2 linked regions of the Homo sapiens genome follow. The protein of the gene in region 1 purifies or fractionates together with the protein of each later gene. This does not show direct contact. Each region holds a gene or a part of one and is shown in the gene's direction. Other genes may lie near its edges.

What was found. The genes of interacting proteins can lie anywhere in the genome.
Region 2: the proteins of MKRN1 (region 1) and IGF2BP3 purify together in Homo sapiens (affinity purification with mass spectrometry; 2 studies listed by BioGRID and IntAct, with this or other methods). This does not show direct contact.

The regions. Positions count from the first base shown.
Region 1 is NC_000007.14:140,452,413-140,455,538, reverse strand, and holds the end of MKRN1 (E3 ubiquitin-protein ligase makorin-1), read left to right. Parts: intron 1-305; coding exon 306-444; intron 445-809; coding exon 810-1,022; 3' UTR 1,023-2,506; downstream 2,507-3,126. UniProt on the Homo sapiens protein: E3 ubiquitin ligase catalyzing the covalent attachment of ubiquitin moieties onto substrate proteins. These substrates include FILIP1, p53/TP53, CDKN1A and TERT.
Region 2 is NC_000007.14:23,316,761-23,320,513, reverse strand, and holds part of IGF2BP3 (insulin-like growth factor 2 mRNA-binding protein 3), read left to right. Parts: intron 1-1,259; coding exon 1,260-1,376; intron 1,377-2,800; coding exon 2,801-2,875; intron 2,876-3,753. UniProt on the Homo sapiens protein: RNA-binding factor that may recruit target transcripts to cytoplasmic protein-RNA complexes (mRNPs). This transcript 'caging' into mRNPs allows mRNA transport and transient storage.

The DNA.
Region 1 (3,126 bases):
CTACCTTATTCTGAATCCGTGTCATAGCTGTCCTATGTTCTCATGTGTTGGCTTTCTAGAAGATTTTCTCTCTATGGCATCTGCTTGTACTAGAGCTATTAACCAGCATAGACTTGAACAGAGTTACCGGTTTCTAGTTAGTGTTTCTTGCATTGGCACACACATGTTTATAAGAACACATCTTGGGGAGGGCTGTAAGCTGACATACTGGTTCTATCCCTACCTGTTTAAAGAAACCCCGGATGATAGTCAAATACAGACCTGAAATCCACTGTGAATAAGGGTTGCGATATTTTCCTTTCCAGCAACAAGGCGTGCAGGTATTTTGATGAAGGACGTGGGAGCTGCCCATTTGGAGGGAACTGTTTTTACAAGCATGCGTACCCTGATGGCCGTAGAGAGGAGCCACAGAGACAGAAAGTGGGAACATCAAGCAGATACCGGGTAACTCTCACTGTTTTTTTAAAGGAGGGGAAATTCCAAGGTATCAGTTGAGTCCTGCACATATTGGGGTAGGGGAAGGAGAAGGTTAACGCTCAGGTCTGGGAGCGAAAGTGTAGAGTATTAAAGGAGGAAACAAACCTCAGAAAACTGGGAGGGATAGGAAAGGAAGAAAAAATGTGTGTTAAAGCTCTAGCCTAAACGATTTCCATGAAGTAACCAGAGGGGAGGAAGTGGTAAATGGAAACCCTAACTAAGAAGTCTGGTTCGTCATGCCCTCTGGTGTGCTGGACGTTTTGCCTTATAAACAACAGGATAGAAGATACTGCTCGACAGTGCCATCCCTATCATGGCCTTGTTTTTTACAGGCCCAACGAAGGAACCACTTCTGGGAACTCATTGAGGAAAGAGAGAACAGCAACCCCTTTGACAACGATGAAGAAGAGGTTGTCACCTTTGAGCTGGGCGAGATGTTGCTTATGCTTTTGGCTGCAGGTGGGGACGACGAACTAACAGACTCTGAAGATGAGTGGGACTTGTTTCATGATGAGCTGGAAGATTTTTATGACTTGGATCTATAGCAACCTTGCGTGGCGTGTGAACTGGTCTGCTGACCTCAGACAGCAGCTGTCCCCTGTGGTGGTGTGGCAGTGCCTGTGTTCTCTCCTAGGCAGGCCTCTCAACTCCAGGTGCTGTCCTAAGAATTTTTACCCAGGGCCTGTCTTCTCAACCCCTCACCTTTCCCTGAGGAGTGTGTTGTTTTCCCTGTTGAAAAAAGTTACAAAAATAAATCTTAAAGTTAGTTTTTTGTAACACGAATTTAACTGTCAGACAGTTAGTGTAGGTGTGTTGCGTCATCTGTTTTCAACCAGATTGCATTTATGGACTTTTCACACACTCATTTTGAGGACCCCAGGTTCAAAAGTAAAAGCAGTGGCCCTGCTTTGGGGTCCAAGAATAGGAGTGATGGGTGAAGGGACCTAAGCTGGCCAATAGCCCTCTGCCCCAGACATGGGATGTGGATCCTTGAGGTTTCTGGTGAAATCTGCACATCTGTGTTTTTATATCTGTTCCCTACCCTGTAATCCCTACCACGTGCACTTGTTCTGTGGTTTTGGTCTCTTGTTTAATTGCACACAAGTAATACTACTGGGTAACCAGAATCAGGTGTGAATGTGTTGAGATTTTTTACTGTTTTGCATGATAGGAAAATTGAGAAAGAATACGTATAAAAGATAGAGAGGCATAACATCAATGCAGAGTTGGAAGTTGGCTCCCAAGGGCTGACATGGTGTGAGTGTGTGGGTGTGTGATAAGCTTCTCATCCCTGCATAGATGCAGTATTCTTAGCCTTAGTAGAAAAACCTGGTTTAGTGGTTTAAGCCTTGTGTGGCAGATAGATCTTAAAGGGCAAAGCAGTATATTGGTAGTTGTCAATATAGCAGTGCTAGCTCTGTCTATATAAATAGAGAAATGGGGTTAGCCATAGAGGTTAAAACTACCTGGTTATCCCATATAATAACACAAACTGGGTCTTGGATACACAGTTGTATTTAATGTTTTACGATCTAGCCTTTCCAGTACAGGCACTTTCTGAGAAACCTTTGTCCTCACTTGAGGCATTTTGTTGTCGGGTTTTTGTGTTTGTTTTTGTGGGTATTTGCCTCATTCCACCCCTGAGCTTTCAGGTAGACAGACGTGATTCAAAACTCTGTTCTAAGGTGTTTATTGTAGTGGAGTAATGGGTTTGCAGTGATAAGTCATACTTTTCCACCGAAAGGGAGGGCTTGGGAATCCCTGAGATTAGCTAAAGTTAAGTTGTTGGAAGAATTCCTTGATTGGAAATTGTACCTTTGTGTTTTGTTGCTCTGTTTCCTGAAAATAACTCGGGGATGCTCCTGGTTTGTCCATCTACTGCTTTGATTCCTTGGATCCCACCCATTCTTTCACTTTAAGAAAAAACAAATAATTGTTGCAGAGGTCTCTGTATTTTGCAGCTGCCCTTTTGTAAGAAGCACTTTTCCCAAATAAAACAATTAAAAAAAAAGTTGGCTGTTCTGTGTAATGAGCTGTTTTTGAAATGTGCCGATGTCAAAGAATAATGATGTTTTTCTTTCACTGACTCTTCGATCGGTCCCTTGTCGGATATTCGGGAGGATAGGTACTTTGAGAAATGTGTGTGAGAGAGAAAGGGAAACCTTAACTAGCCGGGGTCATCAAACAATCCTATACTTGAAAATGTTCAAGACTAACGCTGGGCCACCTGTTGAGCAAAAGGCACTGGCAGTTTTCTGCTACCATGCACTTGCGGTTGAACTTGCTTCATGCCCTTAGATAACGGGGGAAGGTCATAATATAATTGTATTTTGAAAGCTTATTGTTCTGCATAATTATTTCGTGAATTTTTAAGGAGTTTTCATTATTGTGAATTTTTTGTGAGTAAGAACCATTCTGCTACTCCCATGGAAGACCTTCAGGTGACCTTTTTTCCACACTTGTAAAAATAACTGCTCCTCGATTTTAGTATTTATGTTAAGAATTTATGGCTGGGTGCGGTGGCTCACGCCTGTAATCCCAGCACTTTGGGATTACAGAGGCAGGAAAATCACTTGAACGTGGGAGGTGGAAGTTGCAGTGAGCTGAGATCATGCCATTGCACTCCAGCCTGGGCAATAGAGTGAAAAA
Region 2 (3,753 bases), about 120 Mb from region 1:
GAAAATGCATAAATTATGTGCACTGCTTCTGTACTTTAGAACTGTTAGTTGACTGGTAGCATTACTGAACCTTGAACCTTGAATTGGCCTTTTTAGGAGCCCAGTCACTGTGAACTCTTGAGCAAATGTGTCCTTTATCCCTGCAAGGACTATTTGAAAAGAGACCCAGGAAGGGCACAACTGGCTTGAAGTGGGAAGTAGTGAAGGAATGAGGTACATAGATAAAATCTATTTATGAATGACCTTTCAGGAGTTAGCCTACAAAATATTTTCTAATTTTTTCATGTATAAAATGCAAAGGGGGCTGGGCGCAGTGGCTCACGCCTGTAATCCCAGCACTTTGGGAGGCCAAGGCGGGTGGATCATTTGAGGTCAGGAGTTCAAGACCAGCCTGGCCAACATGGTGAAACCCTATCTCTACAAAAAAAAAAAAAAATTAGCCGGGTGTGGTGACAAGTGCCTGTAATCTCAGCTCCTTGGGAAGCTGAGGCAGGAGAGTAGCTTGAATCCGGGAGGTGGAGGTTGCAGTGAGCCGAGATCGTGCCATTGCACTCTAGTCTGGGCAACAAGAGTGAGATTCCATCTCAAAAAAAAAGCAAAGGGAAGGCACAGATGGAAGGAATAAGGAATTCTGTGGGAAAGCATCTTAGGGCATCTTACCACTAAAGTGAATTAGCTCTCTCCTAATCCTGTCCTGTGCTTGGATGTGATAACTATTGAATGACAGTGGTAAGGTTTCATACAATTTAGTCATATGTAACAAAATTCAGCTTTTCTCTTAAACACTTCACTGTGTATGTGTTTAAGGAGTGAAACCTACATAGATAAGGTGTGGAGCTGGCGTCCTTGAGTTCTGTTGTGTTTGATATGTAGCCCAGAATTTCATTTACTTGTTAAGAATCTACCTTGAGAGTGGTAGGGGGCTCTTACTTAATTTTTAATGCAAGCATGTCCCGCTATTCTAATATGATTAAACTTTACAACATCTACATATCTTTTAAATCCATAACTCAGTGACATTTTAAAGTTTAAGGCAACAGTAGAGAAAAGTGAAATTTTAAATACCACTGTTTTCAGGATGACTGTATGAGATCTTCTTGACCTATTAGGTAAGGTCTGGTCAACTTCTTATGGTAGCTTTTCCTTAAACTTTCCTGGTATTCCTACTGCATGAGAAGGTGTCCTTCCTAAAGCTAATGTTAACAAAAGCCTGATTTGTAGCAAATAAACATGGGTGTCCTGGCTTTCTTTTCTAACAGCAATCAGAAACGGAGACTGTTCATCTGTTTATCCCAGCTCTATCAGTCGGTGCCATCATCGGCAAGCAGGGCCAGCACATCAAGCAGCTTTCTCGCTTTGCTGGAGCTTCAATTAAGGTACTGTTCTACCAGCTGTGGTTCTCTGGTTCTTTAAGTAAGTTACAGAAATATGAATCTTCTTGCCACTTTATAATTTGAATAGAATGTAAAAGACACTGTTAGGGTTACATAAGGATATGAAGAAACCCCCAAACAACAGTGGCTTACACCAAGGAGGCTAACTTCTCTGTGCAGAAAACACAGTTAGGAGGTGAACATCCGGGCTGGGTGTTGGCTCTGCCCCCACCAAGTCCTTGGACCTAAGTTCCTTCCAAGCCACCTTCCCCAGGTACGGCCTTGGTCCCTCTTGGTTCCAGATTGACACCATTCAGTGCTCCAGGAATCAGGTCTGTTGCCCAGCCAGTAGGAGAGGAGAACATAATAAAGAGCTTTTCTTCTAGGGAGGTTTCTTGTTAGCTACTGTGGGATATTTCTACCTATATTTCCATTGCCCAGAACTTGGCCAGACGAAGTTGAAGGGGCAAAATACAGGCTATGCACAGTCAGCTAAACATTTTGTAACTACAGAAGGTAACATACCAGAGGACAAATAATGGTGTCTGCCGTAATAGATAACTGTGTGTTCTGAAGATTCTGTATTTTGATGCCTTATTTAAGGAAAATAAAGGTTGGCCAGGTGCGGTGGCTCACACCTGTAATCCCAGCACTTTGGGAGGCCAAAGCAGGCAAATTGCTTGACCCCAGGAGCTGAAGACCAGACTGTGCAACATGGTGAGACCCCATCTCTACAAAAAAAAAAGTGTAATTAGCCAGGCATGGTGGCACACACCTGTAGTCCCAGCTGCTTGGGAGGCTGAGGTGGGAGGAACACTTGAGCTTGGGTGGTTGAGGCTGCAGTGAGCTATGATCACACCACTGCACTCCAGCCTAGGCCACACAGTAAGACCCTGCCTCAGACAAACAAAGGCATGTGGTGTGCAGTATCCTTGAAACTTAGGGTACAGAGATTCCTAGAGTGTGTTGCATACACAGGAAGCCCAAGGAGCCCTGATGCAAGTGGGCCAAGGACCATACTTTGAGCACCACTGGTGTAGTGAACACAGGCAATGGAGACAGACCCAGCTCTCCCTCTAGCTCTGTTAGCTGTGTGATCATGGTCCAGATAACTCAATTTCTCCAGCCTTCCATTTCCGCATTTGTGAAGTGGAGGTAATACTACTTCATCAGGACGTGGTGAGGATTAGCTGAGAGACAGCACGTGGAGGTCTCCATTAGGGCCCGGCACAGAATAAGCATATAGTATATGCAGGAGGGAGGCCTAAATTGTGAACCCACAGGAATTGCTGCCTCTCCCTAATTTCCTTCACGAAGGCTTTAATTCTGCATTTCAGCCAGTCACATGCAAATGTTAGGCTGGTTGGCCCAAGATGCCTATCAGTGATACCTGAAAGTATCATAACTTGTTGTTGGGTCTGTTACAGATTGCTCCAGCGGAAGCACCAGATGCTAAAGTGAGGATGGTGATTATCACTGGACCACCAGAGGCTCAGTTCAAGGTATGTGCTCTAGAGTATGTGCTATGTCCACAGGTAACAAATGCACAGGTAGTCCATAACCTGGCGTCTCCCTTAAATATGTCTAAATCTCAGAAAGAGTCAATGGAAATTCTTATCTAAGAGCTGAGTAGAATCACACTCAAAATTATATTTCGAAATTAACCAAAAGTCTTTAATTTTAAGAGTTCTGTACTGGTTGCTGGATTTACCTGTCTCTCAAAGGTTAATTTTGCTTAATGGTTTGTAATCCTATGCTAAGGTGAGACCTTAAAATTTACAAACCTGCCAGGTTAATATGCCTTGGAAACTTGTTTTCAGATGTTTTCCCTCCTGTCCCTGAGATTGCCTAGACTTGAATTAAAATGCCCCCTTTTTCCTTACCCTTGGATTATCTCTGTTAGACCCTGCCCATAGACTCTACAAATCTCTCTAATCCCTGGGATCTTAGAGATAGGAATGGCAGGAGCTCTTGTAGCATTTGTTCTGGTATGAACCATTGCACGTTTAGTGGGATTTGAGGTCTTTGGGGCTGCAGTGTGCCTTTCAATGTCTACTGAGAGATGGTAGAGCTGAGACTTGGCAGCCAGGCTGCTAGTTCAAATCCTAGCTCTGCCATTTGCCTTGTATGACATTGGGCAAGTTACTTAACCTTTTTCTGTAAAACCAGGGATAAGAGCACCTACATCCTAAGGTAGTTTAAGGTTTACACAATATATGAAATGTTTAGAAAAGTGCCTAACACATGGGCAGCACAAAATTAGCGTGCTGGGGGTATTCAACAGACTATGGATGAATCAGACTAAGACCATGCCAAATTCATAAATATATTCCTTTTAGTGTATGATTTCTCCCACAAAATTTAGTATGGGTGTCTTGTC